4 linked regions of the Homo sapiens genome follow. The protein of the gene in region 2 interacts with the protein of the main gene of each other region in a pairwise test. Each region holds a gene or a part of one and is shown on either strand. Other genes may lie near its edges.

What was found.
Region 1: the proteins of C3orf52 (region 2) and KIR2DL3 interact in binary tests that used the Homo sapiens proteins (3 or more experiments, as listed by UniProt).
Region 3: the proteins of C3orf52 (region 2) and HHLA2 interact in binary tests that used the Homo sapiens proteins (3 or more experiments, as listed by UniProt).
Region 4: the proteins of C3orf52 (region 2) and KEL interact in binary tests that used the Homo sapiens proteins (3 or more experiments, as listed by UniProt).

What each region holds. Positions count from the first base shown.
Region 1 is NC_000019.10:54,748,476-54,753,553, reverse strand, and holds the end of KIR2DL3 (killer cell immunoglobulin-like receptor 2DL3 precursor), read right to left. Parts: intron 1,906-5,078; coding exon 1,801-1,905; intron 1,339-1,800; coding exon 1,286-1,338; intron 1,188-1,285; coding exon 1,035-1,187; 3' UTR 502-1,034; downstream 1-501. UniProt on the Homo sapiens protein: Receptor on natural killer (NK) cells for HLA-C alleles (HLA-Cw1, HLA-Cw3 and HLA-Cw7). Inhibits the activity of NK cells thus preventing cell lysis.
Region 2 is NC_000003.12:112,082,314-112,089,422, reverse strand, and holds the start of C3orf52 (TPA-induced transmembrane protein), read right to left. Parts: upstream 3,035-7,109; 5' UTR 3,016-3,034; coding exon 2,878-3,015; intron 1-2,877. UniProt on the Homo sapiens protein: Has a role in LIPH-mediated synthesis of 2-acyl lysophosphatidic acid (LPA). LPA is a bioactive lipid mediator involved in different biological processes, and necessary to promote hair formation and growth.
Region 3 is NC_000003.12:108,299,548-108,306,585, reverse strand, and holds part of HHLA2 (HERV-H LTR-associating protein 2 isoform a precursor), read right to left. Parts: intron 4,102-7,038; exon of another isoform or gene 3,792-4,101; intron 1-3,791. UniProt on the Homo sapiens protein: Through interaction with TMIGD2, costimulates T-cells in the context of TCR-mediated activation. Enhances T-cell proliferation and cytokine production via an AKT-dependent signaling cascade.
Region 4 is NC_000007.14:142,940,604-142,945,391, forward strand, and holds the end of KEL (kell blood group glycoprotein), read right to left. Parts: intron 4,139-4,788; coding exon 4,040-4,138; intron 3,798-4,039; coding exon 3,720-3,797; intron 3,281-3,719; coding exon 3,180-3,280; intron 2,994-3,179; coding exon 2,883-2,993; intron 2,741-2,882; coding exon 2,673-2,740; intron 2,442-2,672; coding exon 2,272-2,441; intron 1,927-2,271; coding exon 1,831-1,926; intron 811-1,830; coding exon 649-810; 3' UTR 511-648; downstream 1-510. UniProt on the Homo sapiens protein: Zinc endopeptidase with endothelin-3-converting enzyme activity. Cleaves EDN1, EDN2 and EDN3, with a marked preference for EDN3.

The sequences.
Region 1 (5,078 bases), on a different chromosome or scaffold from region 2:
TAATTCCTGATACAGCCTACACACAGCTTCATTTGTGTCCATTCAACATAGTTATGAGTTTTGGAACTCTGTGGATATTTTCTCTGAATATTTTTGATTTATACTTTGTTCAATAAAGACCTGTAAACCCCACAGATACGGAGGAGTGACCGTATATTTATAGTATGAAAGATGATGTGTTGATATGTGTCCCCATGGAGATGAGACTAACAAGGCCTATGACTCTACAAATGTTTCATCGTGGAATGACTCTGCCAGCTTTCCAGGTCTGCAGAGAGTAACAATGTCACTTGTTCATGTGATTCCCGATCCTTGGAACCTCCTATGTGCTGCATCTTTGGATGGAAATTGGAGTCCCAGAGACAAATGAGGCTCCACACTGCTTCCAGAAGCTCAGAGTCCAGAGGTGAGAACCCGGTGGAGAACAGATGGGATTATATGGACATGGTACTGATAACACCGGAAGCCTTAGGCAAGAAAAGAGTCCCATTACCTAAACCATGAGGGCAGACATGTTTATTTGAAGGAGGGAAAACTACATTGAAATTATTTTAAAAAATATATAAGTTTTACTGCTGACAGAAGGCTGAAAGCTAGTCTGAGGGGAGGTGGAACAGCATGAGGGAAGGTGGAACAGCACGTGTCTAAGTGCCGTGTTAAGAGGGAGCCTCTTGTATGTTTGGAATTGTGAGTTCCTCAGTGTGATTGCAGCCTCAAGTAGACTAGGAAGTAAGCCAGTTAGGTTGGAGAGGTGGGCAGGGGTCAAGTGAAATGGAGAATTGTGGGCTAAGCAAAGGAGTGTGTTTTCTCTCCAGCAGGCAGTGGGGACCTTAGACATTTGTAAGCAAGGGAGAGGCACGTTCAGATTTGTGGTGTGAGGAAGAGCGATGCCCTAAGATGCAGACTCACGCCTTCAGATTCCAGCTGCTGGTACATTGGAGCTGGCAACCCAGTTTTGAGACAGGGCTGTTGTCTCCCTAGAAGATCCCCTCAAGGCCTGACTGTGGTGCTCATGGGCAGGAGACAACTTTGGATCAGGGCTCAGCATTTGGAAGTTCCGTGTACACGATGATATCTGTTGGGGGTGTCTTGGGCCTCTGAGAAGGGCGAGTGATTTTTCTCTGTGTGAAAACGCAGTGATTCAACTGTGCATATGTCACCTCCTGAGGGTCTTGTTCATCAGAGTCCTGGAGAGAGGGAAATGCTGAGTGAGGGAGGGTGCTCACATTTTCCAGGACTCTTTGGGAATAACACTAGCCACGAGGCTGGGCCGAGGAGCACCTACCTCCCTGTTCACTGTTCTGTTCCCTGCAGGCTCTTGGTCCATTACAACAGCATCTGTAGAAGACGGAAGTCAACAAAACAGCTCAGAGGGCACTTCTGGGCCCTCATTTCATAAGCAGATACCAACATACAGGGGGAGACCATAGGAGCCTGAGGTCCCTCAGTTGCCAACAGCAGACTCAGACATTCTATCTCTCTGAGCTCAAGGACCCATCCCATGAATAGCTCTGAGTTCCCATCCCATTGATTCTGTCTCCCACTTTCTGCCTGTCATGGAACCTTCTCCTGGATGTGAGTGGCTGCAGGGGACATGAGGATACAGTTCAGAATCAGGCAATGGTCTGTGAGCTGAAGGCAGGGACAGGGAGTCTGGTGCTCTCTCTAGAAAGTCCTCCCTCTGTGGCTGCTGCCTTGGGCCAGGGACCATCCTGTCTGTGAGGAACACACACCTGAGTGCTCCCATCCTGCTTCCCCACATGGCCCTGAGCTCTCTGGCCTCTGCTTCGTGAGACTTACTTTTTTTGTTGCAGCACCAGCGATGAAGGAGAAAGAAGAGGAGGAGGATGAAGAGGATGATGACCACTGAGGTCCCAATCAGAACATGCAGGTGTCTGGGGTTACCTGGAAGAAGAGGAGACACCAATAAGAAGCTAATCATAGCAGTTCCTCTTTATGAATTGTCTCACATTTCTTGATTGACAGGTAACCACATACAACACCCCTTTAGGACAAGCACCCAGATGGAGGGAGACCCAGCTTTCTCCTGCTTTCTCAGTTATAGCTCTCATAGTAACCATAGAACGTGTTGAGGATACAACTACTTTAGTTGAGATGTTTGACCCCTTCAAACCTCACATTGAAATTTCACCCCCACTGTGGGAGGTTGGGCCTCTTGAGAGGTGTTTGGGTCATGGAGGTGGATCCATCATGAACAGACCAATGCTGTCCCAAGGAGACGGGGTTAGCAAGTTCCCCTTCTATTAGTTCCTGGAGAGCTGGTTGTTCAAAAGAGCTTGGAAGCTCCATCGCTCCCCCTCCCCCTTGCTCCCTCTCTTGCCGTGTGATCTCTGTGGTCTCTGCACAGACAGACCCTCCTTCCCTTCTGCCAGAGTGGGAGCAGCCTGAGGCCGTCACGAGAAATAGATGCTGGTGCCACGCTTCCAGTACAGCCTGCAGAACTGTGAGGCAAACCAATCTCTTTTCTCTAGAAGTTACCCAGGCTCAAGTGTTCCTTTAGAGCAACAAAAATGGACTAAGACAGCAACGTCCTGAGATCAGGAGGAACGTCTCAGAACAGCCTGGGCTGTCTTCCTGTTCTTCCTGGAGGAGGACGTCATGCAGTGCTTTAGCTGAGTGCTTCCTGTGGCTCCACAGTACAAAACCCAGGCTGGGCTGCTCTCTGGCTTCCCCCAGCTACACTGCAAATGGGGTGACTCCATATGTCCCGAGTAGCTTTTCTGAGCCTTGAGGGACTGGCTCACATTGAAATGTAGGTTTCTGTTGTCACTCGCTGCTTATCTGTTAGTAATGAACCTGCCTGTGTAATGTATTCTCTGTGTGTTCTGTCTCCCTGGAGTGACGGTGAGTGATAGGAATTGGCATAAGCCCAGGTGCAGTCCAGGAGGTATTTAGAGTCTTCTCTGGGAAGACTGCACTGGGATTGATACACAGCGAATGTGCTTTAGGATTTCTACATCCACAGCATTCTTGAATCAAACAACTTGCATTCTCCAAGAAAAGGAAACAAAAGTGAAATCAAGATAAAAAAAGCTAAGTAGAATTCTCTTATGTCAAATGGCCAGGAAATAGTGTTGAAGCCCGTGTGAAACGTGCTACTCTTTGTGATCTCGGGAGACACATGTTAGGCTGCTGTTCTACCCGAGAGGCTGGGGGAAGGACCACCCCCTCGGCCATCTATTGCTTCAATACCACCTGTCCTCCTGTGAATTAGTAGGAAAGGGGAGCAGGAGCTAGTGCTGGCACTGATCTCTGATTCCAAGATCTGGACTCACTCCAAGGAGTATCAATGTTTACCTCCCCATAGCCTATCTGAATCTCCACAGGTGATTGGAAGTAGGGGTGAGGTGGGGGATTTGGGTGAGTGGGCAAGTTTTTTGTTGCGATGAACAGAGCACTTTCTCTATTCCACGATCTGTGCTGGAGGATTCTGAGGGCTTTCACATTTTCTATGTGATCTCATTCTCACAGAAAGCCAAATAGGGAAGAGGTTTTAAGCTCATTGCCTAATGGATAAGATAAAGGATCAAAGAAGTAATTATAGAGAAATAGAAAAACGATGATTGGAATTCAGGTGCCTTTGTCATTCGTGTGTGTTTTATTATATTTATGTATTTCTTATTTTTATTTTTTGAGATAGAGTCTCCTTGTGTCCCCCAGGCTGGAGTGCAGTGATGCAATCTCCACTCACTGCAACCTCCACCTACTGGGTTGAAGTCATTCTCCTGCTTCATCCTCCAGAATAGGAGCTGGGATTACAGGGATGCACCATCGTGCTCGGCTAATTTTTGTATTTTTAGTAGAGATAGGGTTTCACCACGTTGGCCAGGCTGGTCTGGAACTCCTGACTTCATGGAATCCACCCACCTTGGCCTCCTGCAGTGCTAGGTTACAGGCGTGAGCCACTGTTCACAGACTTGTATATTATGCTATAATAAGTCTCTTCATTTCCACCACCACTCATATATCTGTCACTCCTTTGCCAGGTATTGATTTATGTGTAGGATGAATAAATCTCAGAAAGAAATTAATTAAGCGAGGATTAAACAAGTAGGAAAATCAAACCCAGTAAGCGTTTCCAGTCAATGATTCTACCTCACAAACATATCTTATATCCATCTACTTCATTCATTTAGTGTCTAAATCAGCACCACATTTCACCAGTGGGGTGGCAATTGCCTTTTCCACGGTCTCCTAGATTCCAGTTATGCAACTGAGCCTCCCTTATTTTCATGTCAGTCATATTAATCATGTAGGGATTCCTGGTTACCCCGAGGTGAATCCAATGGCTGTGAGTGTCAAACACACACTCCTTGTTGCTCCTTAGTTTCCTGTGTACCCAGTGTGCTCTCCGTCTCTCTACAGTCGTCTTGTCATTCTCCCCACATCATTCCCAGCATTTGAGGCAGAGCCTCTTCCTTCCACATCAGATTGTTTTCACCTTTGTGCCTTCACGGCTGACAGCTGTGTGTGCAAAATCCTTCCGCCAATCTTTCAGGGGTTCAATCCGTGTTTTTCATTAATGTCACAAATATCTGAATAGTGAGACCTTCTTTGTCACCTGAAATCATACACTCAGCATTATCTATTATTGATTTTGAATTCTGGCTGGGCACAGTGGCTCACGCCTGTAGTCCCATTACTTTGGCATGCTGAGACGGTCGGATCACTTGAGGTTGGGAGTTTCAGACAAGCTTGGCCAACGTGGTGAAACATCCTCTCTACAAAAAATATACAAAAAGAATTAGCCGGGCACGGTGGCAGTTGCCTGTAATCCCAGCTACTCGAGAGGCGGAGGCAGGAGAATCACTTGAATCCAGGAGACGCAGGTTGCAGTGAGCCAAGATCGTGACACTGCACTGTAGCCTGGAAGACAGAGGGCGACTCTGTCTCAATAAACAAAAGAACAAACAAAAAATAGATTTCATGCACAGATGCTTCCCAATGGATCATTCATTTATAGATCCACTTGTGCATTCATTTTCTGCCCTCCCATTTAACCATCTGCAATATCAGTGTCCCAAGGGCAGAAGCCAAATGCATCTTGTTCACCGTTT
Region 2 (7,109 bases):
CTGAGTAGCTAGGATTACAGGCATGCGCCACCACACCCGGCTAATTTTGTATTTTTTTTAGTAGAGACGGGGTTTCTCCATGTTGGTCAGGCTGGTCTCGAACTCCCAACCTCAGATGATCCACCTGCCTTGGCCTCCCAAAGTGCTGGGATTACAGGCGTGAGCCGCTGTACCCGGCCTGAAATAAATCTTACCTGCCTCAAAACTATCAATTTACTGGTTTGTTATTATTCAAATGATGTTGCCATCTCTTAAAATGCCTCTGGGATTTCTATTTGAAAACTGAGCCCCTGTAATAAGCCATAAAAGAAAACCAGCCTCACTCTATTACCCATAATTTATTTTTCACTTTTGACCCAGCCATATTGCCATGTTTACAGTGACAGCAGGCAAAGTGGAGTTCAGTGGCTTCTATTCCTTTGTCTCAAGTGCCAAGCACACATCAAGAAAGGCAAAGAAGTTCCTTCTACTGCTTTTGTTCACTCTCCCACCACAGCTCTTCCAAGGAAGAAGAGAGATGTCTTCTTCCCAATCATTCCAGAACTGTTCCCGATTCCTCACCCATCCACCTGCAACTCCATCATTCCAGATGTGATACTCAACTCCTAGCTCACTTAAATTGCCTAATTATAAATTACCTAACTTATAGAAATTAGTAATAATTAATAACTTAGGCAACTATAAACAAATGAGTATAAATTATATATAACATATTTAAATTAAATGCTGATAGATAATAGATAGATAGATAGATAGATAGAATAAATCAACAGAAACAGCAAAGGTTTGAGATCTAAAAAACATACGTTCAAGCTTCAGAGGCACCACTGAGTGAACTTGAGGATTTTGGTAACTCCTCTGAGCCTCCCTCAATTTCTTCACTCAGCATCTTCAATCTGACAAACCAGAATACTGACGCCTTCCTCTTAAGTTAGTTGTGATAATTAAATGCATTTATGCATCAAAAGTATTTGTCACAAGACAGTTACTAAACAGGGTTAATGAAAATACATGGACTTCAGCTACATTTCAAAATTAGAAATCTTAATATACAGTTCAAAGAGACCAACACACAAAATTCTTAAGTGTCTGAATCTTTTTAATGAGCCTATATTTATTGACTTTTCTAACTGAAATACACTTCACTTTATTTTATAGGACAAAAGAGAATGATTAACACATTAGATGAGATTAGTTCAAGGCATTCCTTGAACACACTCCAAGTACTCCTGTAGCCCTTCACCTTCACTCCATCCTGTTACTGAGGACAGCTCTCCTATTGGGTGACCTACAAAGCTAACTTACAAAGAAGTCCAGGGTATCTGTATATACCTTACTAACAAGGACGTCATGAGAACATTAAAGAACCATTGCTACAGGGTAGGTGCTAAACAATTACAGAATACTGATAACCCTGCATGGATTTGGCTTGTTCTACCCACCACCTGTTTTCAACAAGGCATTCCCAGGCCTCACAGAAGGCCGAGTAGGCACACATTACCACTACGGGACAGGCTTGCCTCTGGGACACACTTCTTAGTGGCAAAACTGTCACCAGATTTCTGGATTCAGCCCCAAGCTAGGGAGTCTTTAGGGTGTGCGGGTCCATCTAATCTGAGGCAAGTATTTCCAACTCCCATTCCTGGACACCGCCCTGGAGGACTCATACAGCCAGTTCACAGTTGTGGCCACTTGCACTGGTGACCAGACTATCTTTGTTCAACCTTCATTCTTCTGTGGCATTCATATTTTATTCAGAAATAAGTTTCCAAATTACTCTCCAGAGTACCTATAAAAGCAGACTTTGCAATAGTTCCAGGAATCAATGTAGAACAAAAGCAATGCTTTCAACTTTTGAATTTCCTGCTTATCCCTAAAATCAACAGCTGGGCAGCCAAAAAGTTGGGGGTGGAGGAGTGGGGCCTAGAAAGATCAGGTCGGGGCTCTATATGGGGAGTTCTGTGCACCCAGAAAACCTCAAGCCAATCTTAGGAGTTAATCAGAAGGTGGATGGCTGGGAAGTCAAAGCTCTGATGTTTTACAAGTCTTTGATGAGAGTGAATAATGTTCCCATCATTGCTAGGGATGAATCAGAAAAGAGCTTGGCCTAAAAATAGCCAGGGACTTCCTTAGGGATTGAGAGGAGGTAAAAGCAAGGTGGGCGAAGTCTCAACCTTCGAGACAAGAACTTTGAAATTATTTTCTTTCAATTGAGCAGGGCAAGTTCACCTCCCCCGCGCCGACCCCCTAACCCGCCCGCCCCATCTCTACGCCAGCCCTACCCCTTCTCCCCTTCTGACCGCTTTCTCTCCTCTGTGCTCTCCCCTATCTCTCTTCCGGCAGAATCCAATGGCCAGGCTGGGAGAAGGCAGAAAGTGCTTGGCGGATGGTAGGCATGGAAGAAGGCTGGGGGCTGCGGCGAGGTGGGTGGAGGGGAGGGAGAGAAGTGGCAAGGCAGTGAAGGTAAGAGGAGGACAGAAGAGATTCTGAGAGAAGGAGGATACTCAATTTGTCATTCTCATTCTCCCTACTGGAAAAAAGAAAAACTGAATTAAAAGTTACATAACTTTAAAAAACTACTTCCATCTCCGGAATACCTCTCTGAAGACAGCAGCGGCCACACCTCACCACTAGGATTCCTAAAGCGCCTCGGGGGTCAGAGGGGTTGGAGGACCCCAGGGGCTGGGGAGGGGACTGCTCGGGCCGAAAGGTGTCGCGGTGACTCGGCTCCATTCAGAGCACTCGAGCGCGCCCCACCCTCGCTCGGCGCCGTCGACGCCCCGCCTGACTGGAAACCCGAAACTCGCGGGTGCCAGGCCCGGGTCCTACTACTGTCCCGCCGCCGGCAAGTTAGGGCCAGCGCCAAGGGGACCTTACCTCGGCCGGGGGGACCTCCTCGTCCAAAGAAGGGAAGACCTTGTCGGCACCATTGAGAGGCGTGTTCTCTTCTGGCTGCCGCTCGAGCACCGAGAGCTCCAGCTCGTCTACTGGCTGTGAGGGTTGGGCCAGGTCCATGTGCCGGCAGGGAAAGTCTGAGCGGCTCCGCGGGAGGCCACAGCGCCGGCGAGTCGAGCGACCTCCCCGCCTCACACTCCACCCACTGGGCGGGGCGTCGCGGACCTCGGGCGGCGGGAGCGGACCGGAGCGGACAGGAGGGGCAACTGTGAGTGGCGGCCACTCCCTGGATCCCGCGGGGTAGAGCACCTGAGGCCGTGCCGGAGTGGGCTCCAGAGCCGAAGGCTGTTTTTCTGATTTGTTCAGGGCGCTGCCTGCTATGCCTTTCCCCGCGCCTGCAGATGCAGACCATCTCCGTTTAGGGGCTGCCTGGGTGCCGGGCTGTGGTAAGGAAAGGGTGGGCCCGGCAGCACCGTCCAACGGAGAAAAGTTTGCGATCTAACCCTACGAACTGTTGGTTGTTGGGGTTTGCCACAGTCCTCGCGGCCTAGCAAAAGTGCATTCATTCAATCAACAAATAACCATGCCTCGTGCCAGCATGGTGCTAGGTTCTGAGTGCATGAAGGTGAATAATATACACCAACACACTTCCTCGCAAGTCCAGAGTCAGGCACAGAGACAGTATTGTGTGGTGCTGGGGACAGCGGACTCTAAAACCAGTGTACCTGGGTTATTCTCCACCCAGAGGGTTCCTCACTGTGAGACCTCGGTCTTCATCTCTCTGTGCCAACGTCCTCATCTGGAAAGTTGGTGTAATATTTGTACCCTCCTAAATGTAGTTGTTACCAGGATTACAAGGGTTGTTGTAAGCAAAGCACTCAGAACAGTGATTGACACAGCAAGCACTCATAAATGACCATTATTATTTATCTTTGAGAGGAGGGGCCTTACACACACACACACACACACACACACACAATGCACGCGCACACACAATCTCCTTGACACCCTATCTGTAGTTCAGAACTTCCGGTTTAGTTAGCATGGAATTATGTTTGTTAAGCACAGCATGGGTTGGGCCAAGGGCCTCAACTCTCAAGCTTCTGTTCCGAATAGTCTTGCTCCTTACTTCTCACCCTCCACGCAACACACACACACACACACACACACACACACACATTAAGACCAGACCATTAACAAGAAGCATATAAATCAGCTCCACTCCAAATATGTTGACTTGAGTCCAAAAGTCTGGCATCTTCAGTACCTGATGTTGAGACACAGCCTAGATATCCTGTCTCCAGCAGTCTGATGCCTGCTACCAGATCCCCTGAACTTTGGATCCATCTGCCTGCTAAGGGGAGTCTGCAGTGACTCATCTGCTGACCTGCACTGACTTCTGCTCCAACAGGTGGATCTTGCAAGAATCAGGCTGCATTCTCAGCTGGGATTTTTGAACAGGTTTTTTAACCAAGGAGCAAGGGTTAAGGGAATCAACAAGGCATGGTGACGTACCCAGGGACTAGCAATAGCGAGAAGCTGTTAACACTCCTAGGCCTAAAAGGGACTGGAGACTGATAAAGAACTAGAGCCATTGAAGGGTGTGGGAATTTGCAGGGAGGTCTTGATAGGATCTGTAGTCACGAAAACATGCAGACCTGACTGGAAGCACTGACACCTCTCAAACTTCTGATTCTCCCCACCCCCATCCTTACCCAGGGTCCAGAAAACTTTTCTCATAGTTCCCTTATTTGATTGCAGAAGTTCATCCTAAATGTGAGATTTTTTTCTCACTTCAGATGGATAGTAGCTATCTCCATGCCTGATTTCTCCATGCACAGATACCTAAAGCCTCCCTCACTCCCCCAGAGAATCAAAAAGCAACTGTTCCTGTCTCAAGCACACCCTAAACCACATCTTCTAATGCCTTTTGAGTACTGTTAAGCAAGGTTTATATACTCTGTAATTAGATTTAAATGCATTTCTATAATTCCATATGCCTAACCCTTGTTCTCATGTTACAGTGGAAGGAATATAAGTTCTGAAGGCAGACAGAACTAGGATCAAATTTAGACTCTCACTATCTGTGTGTTCTTGGGCAAGCTGTTCAATGTCTGCTTGTTTTCTTATAAAATGATTCCTACCTAGCAGAGTCAGGAAGATTAAGGTAAAGAATTTATTCCTGTGCCTGAAAAATGAAAGGATCTCAGTAAATGCTCCATTACATTCCCTGACTGTGTCTTTGTGGCTAATACCCACTCTCCCCCGACCCTTAGCACCCAGCACTAACCCTTGATTCAATATGTTTTCTTTTGATATTGGTTTTTCTTCCTGTGCTGTCCTATTTTCCTGATCACTGACACTTGCTGACACCTCCCATATTACCTGAACTAAATTCTTATTTGCAACCTGTTCCTGTTCCTGTTAACTGCAAATTTCTTAATCTCCAGACAGCTGACCTAGAATGCAGATGAGAGTCCCAACCCTACCTGAAGACTTTCTTCATCCTGCCAGTTTCACTCCACACTAAGGATTCAGAATAAGTTAGGAAGAGGTGTTTCTCCCTAGAGGTACAACCAAGTTTAGATTAAACGAGTCTGATGAAAGTCAAGAATTTGTGAATGAGGAACCAAACTCTACCTAGATTTGTTTTTGTAATTCCTTCAGAATTCATTTACATAAGGGTGGCTTTTTAAATATACTATTATTTCAAAAATAGATTTCTTTAATATAATTTAAAATTATTATTGACTCAATTGCTTTAGTTTGTTTGAAGTGTCTAATTTAAGTAACATTAAAAAATTAAAACATACTTATATTTGCTGACCAATATAAGATTTTTGATGTTGCTTTTTTTTAATAGTACTTGCTCTTCTTTTTAAATCCTTTTTAGAAGCAAATAATTTTCTAAATGGTTATCATATAAACTGAAAAACAAAGTAACATCATCAGAGTGATATCACCAATACACCAAAGGCATCTCATTCCCTTCAAATAGGTCTGTGACTCTGGAATACGCAACAGTTTGTTCCTGTGTGTTGTCAGATGGCAAGCAATACTACTCCGAACGTCAGCAACTGGGTCAGCCACTCAAGCTAATCAAGTAGAAAACAATTGAGAAATGGTTGCTTGTGGTGCTTCACTGTGCTATTTTCAAGGCACTGTGAAAGAAGGCATGAGTCCCTACAAGTTCTCCCTGATAATATGGCACGTGAAATGCTTCTGTCTTAATTTATGAAGGCCATTTTGCTCTGCTAACAAAACCATTCTTGGGACTTGCCTTACTTCACACCTTTGCAAGAATGAAGTGGATATTCCCACATCATTCAGGTTCTAAATGCATCTTAACATGCAATATCCAAGCAAGTTATGTTTGTTTTTCAACCTTTTCCCTGCCCCAGCACTGCTACAGCATATCGTGTACTCACTTTAATACCAGTGAGGGCCTATAGAGGTAGTACATACATGTGCTTTCAAAAACTCCCTCTGATGAATCTGATGGATCATGCCAGCCCTCCTCCATCCCCTAACCGAGATCACAGACTTATGCAAAGGTTTTCATGTATTTTGTGAAGAGCAATTCTATGCCCTAGAAATGACCATAAAGTAAAAAGTACAACTCACCTTGTATATAGGTCACAGCCATCCAGACAAAATAATGTAGATTATAAGAACTATCAGCCTAATTCGCTCTTCTATCCAGTGGATTCAGTAGCAAAGTCCTCCCTTTTGAATTAGTGGTACACTTGGCCCTCTGAATTGCACTATCGTATAGCCAGTTTACTGAAACCTTTGGGGCCCATTCATAGAGGTATTATTAAGATGCTTTATCCTTAATCTGAGGGAACAGTCTTTTAACAAATCAAAGTATATTCTATGAACTGAAAAATTTATCTGGCCTGGGAGATGACACCTTTTGCTCTCTCTCCTTTTGCTGTTACATTAAGATTTTCTAAGGTTCTGTGCATTATTCTATTAATAGACACTACCTGATGTTAGTATTTTTATTACTTCTTTGACTTTATAACAGGAAAACAAATAATATCACTCTTTTTTCTGTTGTTTTCACTCATTTGGTGGTACTATCAATTCTGGCTTCTGTTAATGAAAAGAATATTCTGAGATCAAGTATGAAACCTTCTAAATCAAGATAAAATAAATCAAGAACTAAGATACATTGAGAGTGTGCTATAGGCTTACAACTATGTAAGGTA
Region 3 (7,038 bases), 3.8 Mb from region 2:
CAAAATAGAAATCTTAAAGAGTCCTATAATTATTAAAGAAATTGGATAGCAGTTTAAAACCTTCACACACACGCACAGAGGGAGAGAGAGGGAGAGCTCGAGCAGGCCCAGATGGTTTTCCAGACAAATTCTACCAAACTTCAAGGACAGCATTATTTAAACCCAGGAAAAGACTGTATGAGGACAGAAGATAATCTATTTCACTCAGGAAAAGAGATATGAAAATCTGGACAAAATGTTGTAAACCAAATCTAACAATATTAAAACAGATAATGTATTATGACTGTGCTAATCACGTTCTACAAGAAGCAGACACTAAGATGGGACACGATGTTCAAGGGATGCTAGTGAGGAAAATTCCTGTGAAGGATAAAGGGGGAAAGCAGAAGTGAGGAGAACTTTCCAACTGTGATGTTAAAGGAGAGAGGAAGGGTGGAAATGGAGTGAAAGGAACGTCAGGCTTGCAGCAGTTCTAAGAAAGTTTTGTTAGATGACTGGGGAACCCTTGCACCAAAGTCATCCATTAGAGGATTCCCTTGTTAGCCTTGCCACTGTGCTCAATCACTGAGGGAATGAATAATCAGTGGAGCATCAGCTGAGATCAGTCATGGCCATGACACAAAGGTGGTGATGATCCAGACAGCAGCACCTGGGGCTGCAATCACCCACACTCCCCACAGCAGATGTGAGCCCACATTTTCATGGCTGCCACAGTGACCAAGTTGGGTTTTCTCCAGGAATCCAAAGAAGATTTACCATTAGAAGATTTATAAATGTGATTTATCACATGTATCAGACCAAAGTCTGTGTGCCTCAGATTTCCTTGGCTCAAATGTGTCACTGACCTTAACTGTCACTGTGAGGCTCTGTTGAGTCATTTGCCCTGAGAGTGCCAAGCCTTCCTCCTTGGCCACCACCCAGAGCTGAGCCAACCAGGCATGTACCTGGAGTGTCTGGTTCCTCCTGATACTTCTGGAATGGAATGGAACTCTATACAGCAGGGCATGGGACTCAGCACTCTGAGCTGCTATTAAAGGGACTAGATGATGACATTGGGATATATGGAACTGCTTATTTCCTGTGAGGTAAATTTTAACCAACAGGAACGACTAGATCTGGGCAGATGAATCCCCCCATCTTCTTTCCTCCCGTGGAGGACTTTGAGGCACGGTTTTCTACATTCCCATTCAGAAAAGTCCTTCACACTGATGAATGCTACGACCAAGAGAATTGCTGGGTCTTTCTGACTACTCGTGAAGCAGTAGCCAGCATGGTAATCTGTCCGTTTACAAAGCTGCCCATCTTCCCTTGCCTTGCTTCCGCTTTCCTTCTCTCTCACAGCCCTGAGTTTTTAACCTCCCAAATAAAGCATCAGCATTTTAATCCTTGCTCAGGTTCTGTTTTCTAGAAAACCCAGGCTAAAAGCATATTAAGCAGATTAGAGTTGAAAAACCAATCATCTGAATCCATGCAGAAAAAAATAGATAATGTACAAAGTAATTGCAAATTCCTCATTGATGAGTAAAAGGTTTTAATGTGACAAAGAATATGTCTGAAAACCCTATAAAAACAGACAGAATCTTCAATGGGGAAACATTAGAAATAGTCCCTGTAAAAATCAATTATAAGGCAAGGATGCAAAGTCAACCAGTAATCCTACTCAGGCAGCAAATATGACAACATATTGTGGTAATCATCAATAGTTTACTAATGTGACTATTTATACAGCTGCAGGCAGGGTTAAGTGAAACTAACAAGAATGATGCTGTACCCCCAAGACTAGCAACATGGACAAGTACCCTAACATCCTGGGCTGAAGGAGCAATTTACCAGATCTAGAGAGATTAGCGATCTGCAGAACAGACCATTAGTAGGGAGGTGAAGCCCACTCTCAGACACAGTAGATTTGTGGTGTGTTGCTGAAGCCCTGAAAGTCCTTTCTAATATATTTGTAGTGGATCGACTGGTTGTTCTTCAAAATTTCACATCCACCTAGAACCTCAGAATGGGAGCTTATTTGAAAATAGGTCTTTGTAGATGTAATTAAGGTGAAGACTGATATGAAATCATACTGGATTAGGCTGTGTCTTAAGTCCTATGAGAGGTATGAAAGGAGACACAGACGGTGGCAGAGACTGAACTTATATTGACACAAGACAAGGAACACCAGGAGTCGCCAGAAGTTGGCAGAACAAGGAAGGATTCTCCCCTAGAATCTTCAGAAGTGTGGGCCTGCCAACACCTTGATTTTGGACTTCTAGCCTTCAGAACTGAGAGGATATGTTTTTCTTAATTTAAGCCACCATATTTGTGGTAGTTTGTTAAAGGAGCCTGAGGAAAGTAACACAATGCCTAAATTTGGAGAGAAATCTTTCTTCTTTCTTTCTTGACTGGGAAGGAGTAGGAAACAAATGGGAACATAAACAATGGCGTTGACATGACAATGGGAGCATAGCTTATACAATGATACATTGAACAGAGAGAAGCCACTCAAAACGCCAGTGCATTCCCCTTTAGAACACTACACACGCGTATACACACCACCAACTAAATGATATAAACATTGGAATGTGATATTCAGTAGGTCCAAAAATGAGAGTCAGTTCAATTATCTAACAAAAAGTTTATTTCCACCCCTGCCAATAACTCAGCCTAAGCAAATGAGAGAACACAAAATACCCAACCACCAGAGTCACCTGCTGTGAGGTGGTGGCGATGGTGGTTGCAATAATGGATTATAGGTCTCAGACAAAATGAGAAAAAAAAATCAAGAGCCCATCACGTACCTACTATGTCAGAACTGATTTAATTACCTGGCCACTAACTGGGCAAAATAAAAAACTGACATGCTACATAATATACACTATAATCCAAAATAGGTGGGGTACAGGAATGGCATGCAAGTGACCAAAAAATAAAGCCCAACCTGGAATAAAACAGTTCAAAGAACAGAAAGGAAAACTTCACTTAAATTAGGTCTATACCCTCTAGAAAAAAATATACAAAATAATTATATGTTTTATATTAGAAATTAATGACCAGCATATGTACACAACAAAACAAGTACTCAAAAACAAGCTAAACAAAATGATAGGATGAGAAGAGGATTGTAGATATGAGGAAACAAAATATGGACTAAAATTTCTAGAGATAACTAATAAGAATGTAGAGCTAGCAAAGTACAGAAGTGATATCACTGAAAGCCAAAGTAGAGGAAGATTTGTGATATCTTCATGAATTCAGATGAAAGAGATGAATGCACTAGATGAGGTTGAGCTATAGAACATAAATTGAATGCAATTAGATGAGGTTACATTATAGCACATAAATGACACAGTATTAGGATAATTGATATTGGCCCCTGAAGTCAAGAACTCATCAAATCAAGGAGTTGATACATAAATACAATGTAAGAAAACTTTTCTAAAATGAAGACAGAATTGAATCTGTTGATCTAAAGTTTCCACATTGTAGGAAAAGTTGATACAGAAAACTCAGAACCAAGACATAACTGAATTAAGCAGTTGAATGCCAAATAAGGGGAAGAAATATTTTACTTTTTTGCCTAAACAAGCAACAAAGAGATGGGGCATGGGTGGAGAAGAAAAAGAAGGTGCTTTGACTTCTCCACAAAAGACAACAGAGCATACCGAGTCCAGGATTTTTTTTAAATTTCCTATTAGTGTGTGCTGTTTTCAAGGAGACAGCTAGCCCAGAACAGAAAAGGCAGCACCAGGAGGCATTTCTAGTAAATGCCCTCAAGGAACTTCTTTTCCCCTCTCCCTTCCTACCTCTCCTCCCTTGACTTCAGGACTGTATTGCATAATCTCTCCTGTGAGTTAGGCTTCCAACAGTAAAACTAGGAAAAGGCTCACTGTAACCTCCGCCTCCCGGGTTCAAGCGATTCTCCTGCCTCAGCCTCCTGAGTAGCTGGAAGGAGAGTAAAGTAGCATTTGCTAAAGTCCATGTAGCAAGGAAATACCAAGGAAGTGTTCCCAACTTGAATTGGGGAAAATGAAGTGTTCCCAACTTGAATTAGGGAAAACAAAATGAAACTGAAAACTAATTCAAAAAAGTCGATTACATGACTTGAAGAGAACTGAATGTCTTGTACTGTCAGAATCAAGGAATCCCCACACGGAATTTGAACCAATCAAAATGCAATTAGCAGGGGAAAATGTTGAGAGAGATGTTAGTTAATAAAATGTTTGTCTCAGCGTACTGTCAGGAGAATAAGGGGTAGGAGGTTGAACCCTGGATGGTAAAATATTTACAGTTTCCAGTAATCATGGTTTCCAGGTATCATGCTATTTCAGACCTGTTATCGAAAGACTAACCCTCCTACTACAACAGAACAGAAAATGAAATCAGGTATTTTCTCTTTCAAACTCATTTATATACCATTTTAAAGTCAGACTGTTTAATCTTCATGTTAATATTCATTTCCCTACTATAAAAATCAGATCTATGTAACTCACAAGTATACATTCTTGTGTGAATTAGATTACTAATATAAATAGCAACACAGAAATCAAATCTAGATTACTTGTCTTATTTCCTAAACTATAGCATATCTCAACTTTCTTCTAAAATGAGAATATCAACCCACTACCTCAGCTCAGTTATGTGGATTACCTTTTATATTGTACAGGCAGCACACAAACCACAGAGCTCATAGGCAATACTTGGTAAATGCGAGTCACTCGAGTCACTCGGATGAAACCAATTTAGAAGCAGAAGAGAAACAATAGAGGAGTTAAGGTAGCAAGCAGGAAGAAGTGAAAAGTAAAGCATGCTGCTTGGTTCCAAGAAGAAAGGAGGAGGCAAGATGACCTTGAGGCTGCTTGAGTTGAGGGAGAAAGGGGTAGAATCCTTATGAGAAAAGATTACAAGAATTTGCCAAGCAGATTAAAACTACCACGGGCCACCCTCAACTTCCAAAAGGGAAAGAGAAACAATGCAGTCTCTCAAATTAGCCTACGGAAGAAAATAGGAATATAAGAGACAAGGACAATTGAAATAATTGGGGGCAGGGGAGGAAAATTGTGGTGGGGTGGGGAGGAACTAAGGGGTAAGAATTGAACTGGAGTTACCTTAATAAAAAAGACTGTAAGAAGATAACTCTAGAAGAAATGCCTCAAGAACAACAAACGTGTTTGGAATCCTCAGAAACGTAAATAAAAGTGGGAAAATAGAACCTATACATACTTAGTATTCAGTCATCTATTTCTGCAGTCACGTCTCTGGAATTCACAGGGAAGACAAAAGTACAGTAAAAAGAAGAGGTAAAAAGCTTTTCAAAGACAGCTTGCAGAACTATGTCAGAGCATGCAACACTAAAAGCACAAGAGTGAACAGGAATTAGAAATGTAATCTACAAAGCACACTTAGGATATAATGTTTTGCATATAAAATAAAACGCTAAATTCAATAGGGAACATTGGTTTGGAGGGCCTAGGTCTCCTCACACTCAAATTTTAAGGAGACTAACTCCAAGATCAGAAGACATAAATTAGAAGAGATATTGTGCATGTATAATTCCTTCCTTTCCAGTGAAAGGAAGAGAAAATTTCAGTGAAAATGAGAGAAAGGAAATTCTCTCATTTCATTGTACTGCTATGAAATATTTCAGCTGTGTTAGAAGCTAAACGTAAATATTTGATGTCATTAGTCATTTTTGATTACTCTCAATTCCCAGATTAAAGAACATTTAGATAAATATGACAGCATTATTAAAATAAAGTGTTTGGGAATTTAGATTTCTGTTACAAGCAATAAGAGCAACATCCTGGAACTGGCTTAGACAACAAAGGGAATCTTCTGAGAAACATAACTGAGGCTTCTAGGAGCCTCTGGCCAGCTCTACCCAGGACGTATGTCACTAGGTTTCACGTCTCTGCTTTGCCTCCTGTGGGTTTACCTTATACACAACCTAGCTTCCCTCGTGATAATGAAGTGGCTGTAGATGTTTCAGGCCTGACCTCACACACCGCTAAACCCAGACGAAAAGAACTGGAGCTTCACCAGCGCTTCTTATTAAGGAGAGAAGCTTATTTCCTGGAAGCCCCAGCAAACCATGCTTTTCCTATTATTGGCTCACCTGGTTTATATTCCTAATCTACCCATCACTCTGGCTTTCTCTACCCCCTAACTGGTTTCGTCTAAGAGCACTATTTTAATAAATCACTTGCACCTGAATCTTTGACTCATCAACTCCTTGTGGTGAAATCCTTTCTATGAAACAAAGGCATACAGTGAAACCCCATGGCAGGTTGTCCTTGAATTCCCTGGGCTGTTTCTTCCCACCCTGCCTCCTGTCTCTGCAAAAGCTGGTACTTCATGCTGTGAACAGGACGCTTGCTTACTCATCTTCTCACACACTGTCTCTCCCAGGTTCTGTGCTGTTTCCCCTCGACCCACCCAGCCTTCCCCTTCTGTTGGTCCTTTCAAACCTCTTCCTTGTGTACTCTGAAAACATCATTACCCAATAAACTGCCTGTTACCCAAAACCTGCTCAGATTCCTGCTGCTTTCCCTCCTCAGATGGAACTCAATTCTTTCCCCAAAGCGCCATTTCCCTATCTCCTTTTTCTTAAGAAGAGTTGCTCATTTTCCCGTCTTCTCGCCACACTGGAATCTGAAAATAAAGCTGGGACTCTCGTCATCCAACTGTGCTCTTTCCAAGCCATCGCTCCTGTACCTTTAGGGATTCTGTATCTCACTGTGAGAATCTAAGTTTATTCTAGAGTGACCCTTGCTCCTACACGAAATGGTACCTAGCGAATGTCAATAGTATTTGAGCTGGATAGGGCATATAAGGTTGAGTTAGAGTATAATTTGTACCTTTATGGGTCTGAAATATTTAAGAAATGCTTGCCACTTGGGTCATCTGAGTTTTCTATGTCCCTTCCTCCTCTCTTATCAGCAAATCTAAAACTCTAGGAAGAAAAAGTCAAGAACTCCAAAACTAGTTACTTTTACTCCACTCAGCGTAGCATTTCCATAGATTCCTGCACTTATCACCCAGAACTTTCTGTTC
Region 4 (4,788 bases), on a different chromosome or scaffold from region 2:
GGCTCCAGGTCACAACTCCCAAAGGAGATGCAGGCATGGCTCTCTGCCTCTGATCACCATCACTGTATCTCAAGGTTCAGCAGCAGAGATACCAGTTGCCATCAGTGCTAACTGACTGCCTCTCCAGGTTCGGAGTTTCATCTCCCAGGGCCAGAGACAGCAGACCCACATCCTTCTCTCCCACACCTCTCCTGGTTTTGTTCAGGACAGCAGATTAGAGGCAGGAGGCAATGACAATAAAATAACGATAAAATCCTGAGAACAATTGGGAGCAGCTTTCCGATACTTAATCCAAGCCCTTCTCGTCTCCAACTAGACTGCTTTATTGTCCAATCTTTGGTCCACTGGGTGGCCTTCAAACCCACCAGGTCACCAATTGTTGATTCTTTCCTTTTCTTGTGTCCATGAAACATTTTTGGCATTTCTCCCTCTTATCTTTTCTAACTTCAGGGTATTTTTCTCCCGTACAGTTAATGACTTCCAGGCATAGAACATAGCAGGAACAAGTCATTAAGAGACAAGCGGAAGCCAAGTGCCAGCTTTTATTTTTGGAACAGAAGCAGAAAGGAAATCTTGCTCTGATTCCATGGATGTGACCAGGGAGGTGTTGGTCGATATTTCTGTGCTGTGGCATCTTTGGTAACCAAGTTACCAGAGCTGGCAGCGGCTGGAGGGGTTCAAGAGAGCACCACGTGCACAGCGGAAATACCTGGCAAAGGCTGGGGTGCTGCTGAGGGGCCCGTGGACTCGGAGGTGTGGAGGGCTGTGAGTGTCGTGAGAGTCCTGGGGGCTGGGCTTCCTACACATCACCTGAGCAGGAAGAGAGGTCATTGAAGGGGGAGGGTCCACAGGACAAAGCTGACCCGGTGACAAGGGGTGATCAGGGACAGCAGACAAAGAGGGGAACCAGGGGATCAAGTGCCCCAAGGGCCACATGGAGCATTTGAAATGTATAGTTCATTTAATCTGGCAATAGGAGTCCAGGAGGAGGGCCTGGGCTGTGTAATGATACCATTTATCAATGACAGAGAGGCAGGGTCTAGCGCAGGAGCTCTGGGGTGAAGTCTAATCTAAGCGTGTTGAAGACCTGGCACCTGAGTCTGTTGAGGGAGTACAGGGTGCTTAAGGAGGTGATGTCAAGTGGGCGCCACACCTAAGGTCAGGTGTCTGAAGAGGAATGTGGCACACAGTCAGCCTGTCGCAGGCTTTTTTTTTTTTTTTGTGAGACTGAGTCTTGCTCTACCACCCAGCCTGGAGTGCAGTGGCATGATCTTGGCTCACTGCAACCTCCGCCTCCCAGGTTCAAGCGATTCTCGTGCCTCAGCCTCTCAAGTAGCTGGGATTACAGGCGCCCGCCACCAAGCCCAGCTAAGTTTTGTATTTTTAGTAGAGACGGGGTTTCACCATATTGGCCAGGCTGGTCTTAAACTCCTGATCTCAAGTGATCCGCCCACCTCGGCCTCCTAGAGTGCCAGGATTACAGGTGTGAGCCACTGTGCCCAACCACAGGCTCATTTTTAAGGCATCTGTATTTTGGGGGTATGAGAGGAAAAAAAAGTTGGTCTCCTCCTCTCCTGGAGGAACTTGGGAATAGAGTTTTTTCTACCTTTTGAGTTGTGGGGGTGCTGAACTAGGTAGAAGAACCTGTAGTCATCTGAGGGGTGATTCCAAGGGGTAGGGAGGGAAGAGAAAAGATAACAGTGAGGACATCTGCAGAAGAGGGTTTGGGGTATTTGACGGAGTGTCTGAAGAGGGGACTTCCATGAGCTTCAGTAATAAGGCGTTCAACTGACATAAAGCAAGCTGTGGCGGGAGGTGGCCGCTGCCTACCTGGGCATAGCTTCGAAAGAAGATCTGCTGGGGGCTGAGGTCCAGGCTGGGCAGGACAGTCTCCCCATGGTGCCGTAACAGCCTCTTGCTGTATGCCTGGGTAGGGGTGGGTAGAGAAGGGCCATCAGGCTCTAGACCTGTGGCCATTTGAAAGTCCCTCCACACAGTACCCAAAACCCATGGCCCTTGCTCACTGGTTCTGCACTGACTAGTTGATCTGAGCCAGAAGAAAGAGTACTTCCCAGAAGACCTATAGATGTCCTAAAATGGAGGATCTCTGGGGTAGGAGGGGGATCCCCAAGTTGCCGTCTATTCAGTGGGGATGCGAAGGGCAGAAAGCCATGCAACTGTACTTGTGTCAGGAATGGTGGAAGGAAAACTTGAGGACATGTTTTCTAGTCTGCCAGTACACATAAACTGTGGCCCTTGACACTTGCATACCTGCAGCGCGATGGCTAGCCCCCCAACGTCTGCAGCATTCTCTAAGAATGTGAGGGAGTCATTGAAGGAGGTTCTGCTAGGTAATGGAAAGGCAGCATAATGGCGCTTCAGGCACAGGTGAGCTTCCTGGAGGGCATGGTTGTCACAGGCGAGGCAGCCCCCAGGCAGTACTGTTGAAAATGGGACAAGAGAACATACAGCAAGAGAACATAGGGTTGGTGCTGCCTAGGTGAGGATGTGGGTGGTACCACAGACTGAATCAGCTCCCAGGAGCATGGCAAAGTTCCCAGGACTGCCCCACCTCAAACCCTCAAATAACCTCCCTTTCCCCTCCAGGCCTCCCTTGTGGTCTTCCCTTAGGTTCCCTATTATCCCACCTCCCAGTGGCCCCTGTTACCCACAGAGCTGGTAGAAGATGTGCAACAGCTCGTGGGCCATGATGCTGCCAGCAGCGCCAAAGTTCACGGCTCTAGGGAGACAAGGGCTTATTTGACCCCCAGAATCTCTCAGCATTTGTGACCCCAATTCTCCAACCGTAAGTCCCATCCATCATAACACCTGTCGGCCCCTCTTGGGAAACTCCCTACCTACCCTTACAGAGTGACCCATACCTGGGATAGCCAGGGTGGAAGAATGGGGGTTGGAGGAGTCCAGCTGGAAAGACTACCACATGGTCAGATACCGAATAGTAAGCATTGACGTCCCAAGGGGACACCTTCCACCTGTGGGAAGAGGACATGTGAACTCCAGCCCCCACCACGTATTGCCCTGCCACCCTGAGACCTACACAGTCCCTCCCAACTACCATTACTGTTCATGCTGCCTGCCCTGAGCCCTGGCTTCCTTTCCTGTGAATCATGGATGGGTCTCTCTGGGATGGAGTGCCTGTGTCTCCCCTGCTGTCATACCTGTGTTGGGGGTGAGGCTGCAAGAAGCTCTGGACAATTCTAGCTCGGAGGGACCGGACACAGCTCAGGACAGACTGCAGGAAGCTCGATCCAAGCTGTATCTGGGGAAGAGGCAGGAGGTGACTTGGGCACACAGAGACTTCTATAGATGCACGCTGACAAACACCAATGGGACCATTTGACCCCAAACAGGCAAGCCCTGACAGGCAGGCATCCAGGGATTAGGAGAGAGCAGCCCAATGGCATCACTACACAGCACACCCAGGCTTTACACATATCAGCACACAGATGAACACGCCCAGACAAGTCACAGGATGCATGCATGTGTGTTGGCACATGCGTTGGGACCTGAAAAGATTCTGTTCTTCTGCCAGCAAGACGTACAGTGTGGATATTTCCCCATCAACCCCAGCCAGCACCAGAGTAAGGACAGAGCTAAGTCACCCAGGGAAAACTGATTGTCCAACAAAGACTTAGGAGGGTCAGAGAAGTGACGAGAAGTCAAGGACTGAAAAGGAGCTGGAAAACACAGGGACCCACATCGTTGTATTCTTGTCGGGCCAGCTCTGGCTTCAGGGCCCATTCTGAAGCCCCCATCTCCACCTGCAGTTGAGCAACCTGGAGAGAGACACAGAAGAGGCTAGGAATACTCTCCGAGTCTACCAGAGGAAATTTCTCCCACTCGTTGCCCTGTCCCAGCCTCTCACATTGTTGCCAGTGTGAGTATACAGCCCAGTGGCTTCCCTACTTAGCATGTGCCTGGGGGGGCCTTTGGCATTTGCTTCCAATCCCCATCTCGCTTGTTCCAATACTCCATTCCCTGCACAGGCTCCCACACCAGCCAGGACGCCTGGCCTGACCTTGTCCTGGGCCATGTTCTGGGTCTCCTCATTCATCCAGGGAAGGTTTCTGAGGCGAGTGATGAGGGCATCCCGGATCGCAGTGAATAATTTCATGGCCTGTGGGAGTGAGGTCCAGGGACAGGGGGACAGGATCAGGAGAGGCCTCAGCCTGGCCCTGCCCACAGCTTCTGACCCTTGGAAAAGGGCTTGGCCCCAAGGAGCTGCCTGGGCTGGAGCTGCTGCTAGAGGAGCAGCTCAACTAAAGCAACTAAAGGATCTGTGGAGAAAGGAAGGCAGTGCCAAGCCCACAAAGGGAAGGTGGGGCCTGGCCATCCGTGAGGGCCATCAGGGAGATATAGTTCCTTTCCATGGGGAAATAGCCTGACACAGGAGAAAGACAGTGTCCTCACTCCTGGGGGCAGGAACACCTCTCAGAAATCAGAGGGAGGAGAGGGCTGTCATTTTCTCCTCTGGCTCAGGGCTCTTGTTCTCACACTGTCTTTTTTAAACCGTCCACTCCCTCTCCTCATCCTCCTGAGCTCTTCAGCTTCCCAGCAAGTCCCCCACAAGTCTCCCTGCCTTCACAACGTGAGTGTGTACTCACTGCTTCCCCAGCCACCTGCCATCTCATGTAAATCCTTTCCTGGAGGAAAATGAAAGGCAATATCGAGAGCCTGGGCTCTGGCATCAGAATGCCTGAGTTCAAACCCTGTCTCTGCTTTTTGGTAACTGTGTGACTTTGGGCAAGTCACTTAACCTCTCTTTGC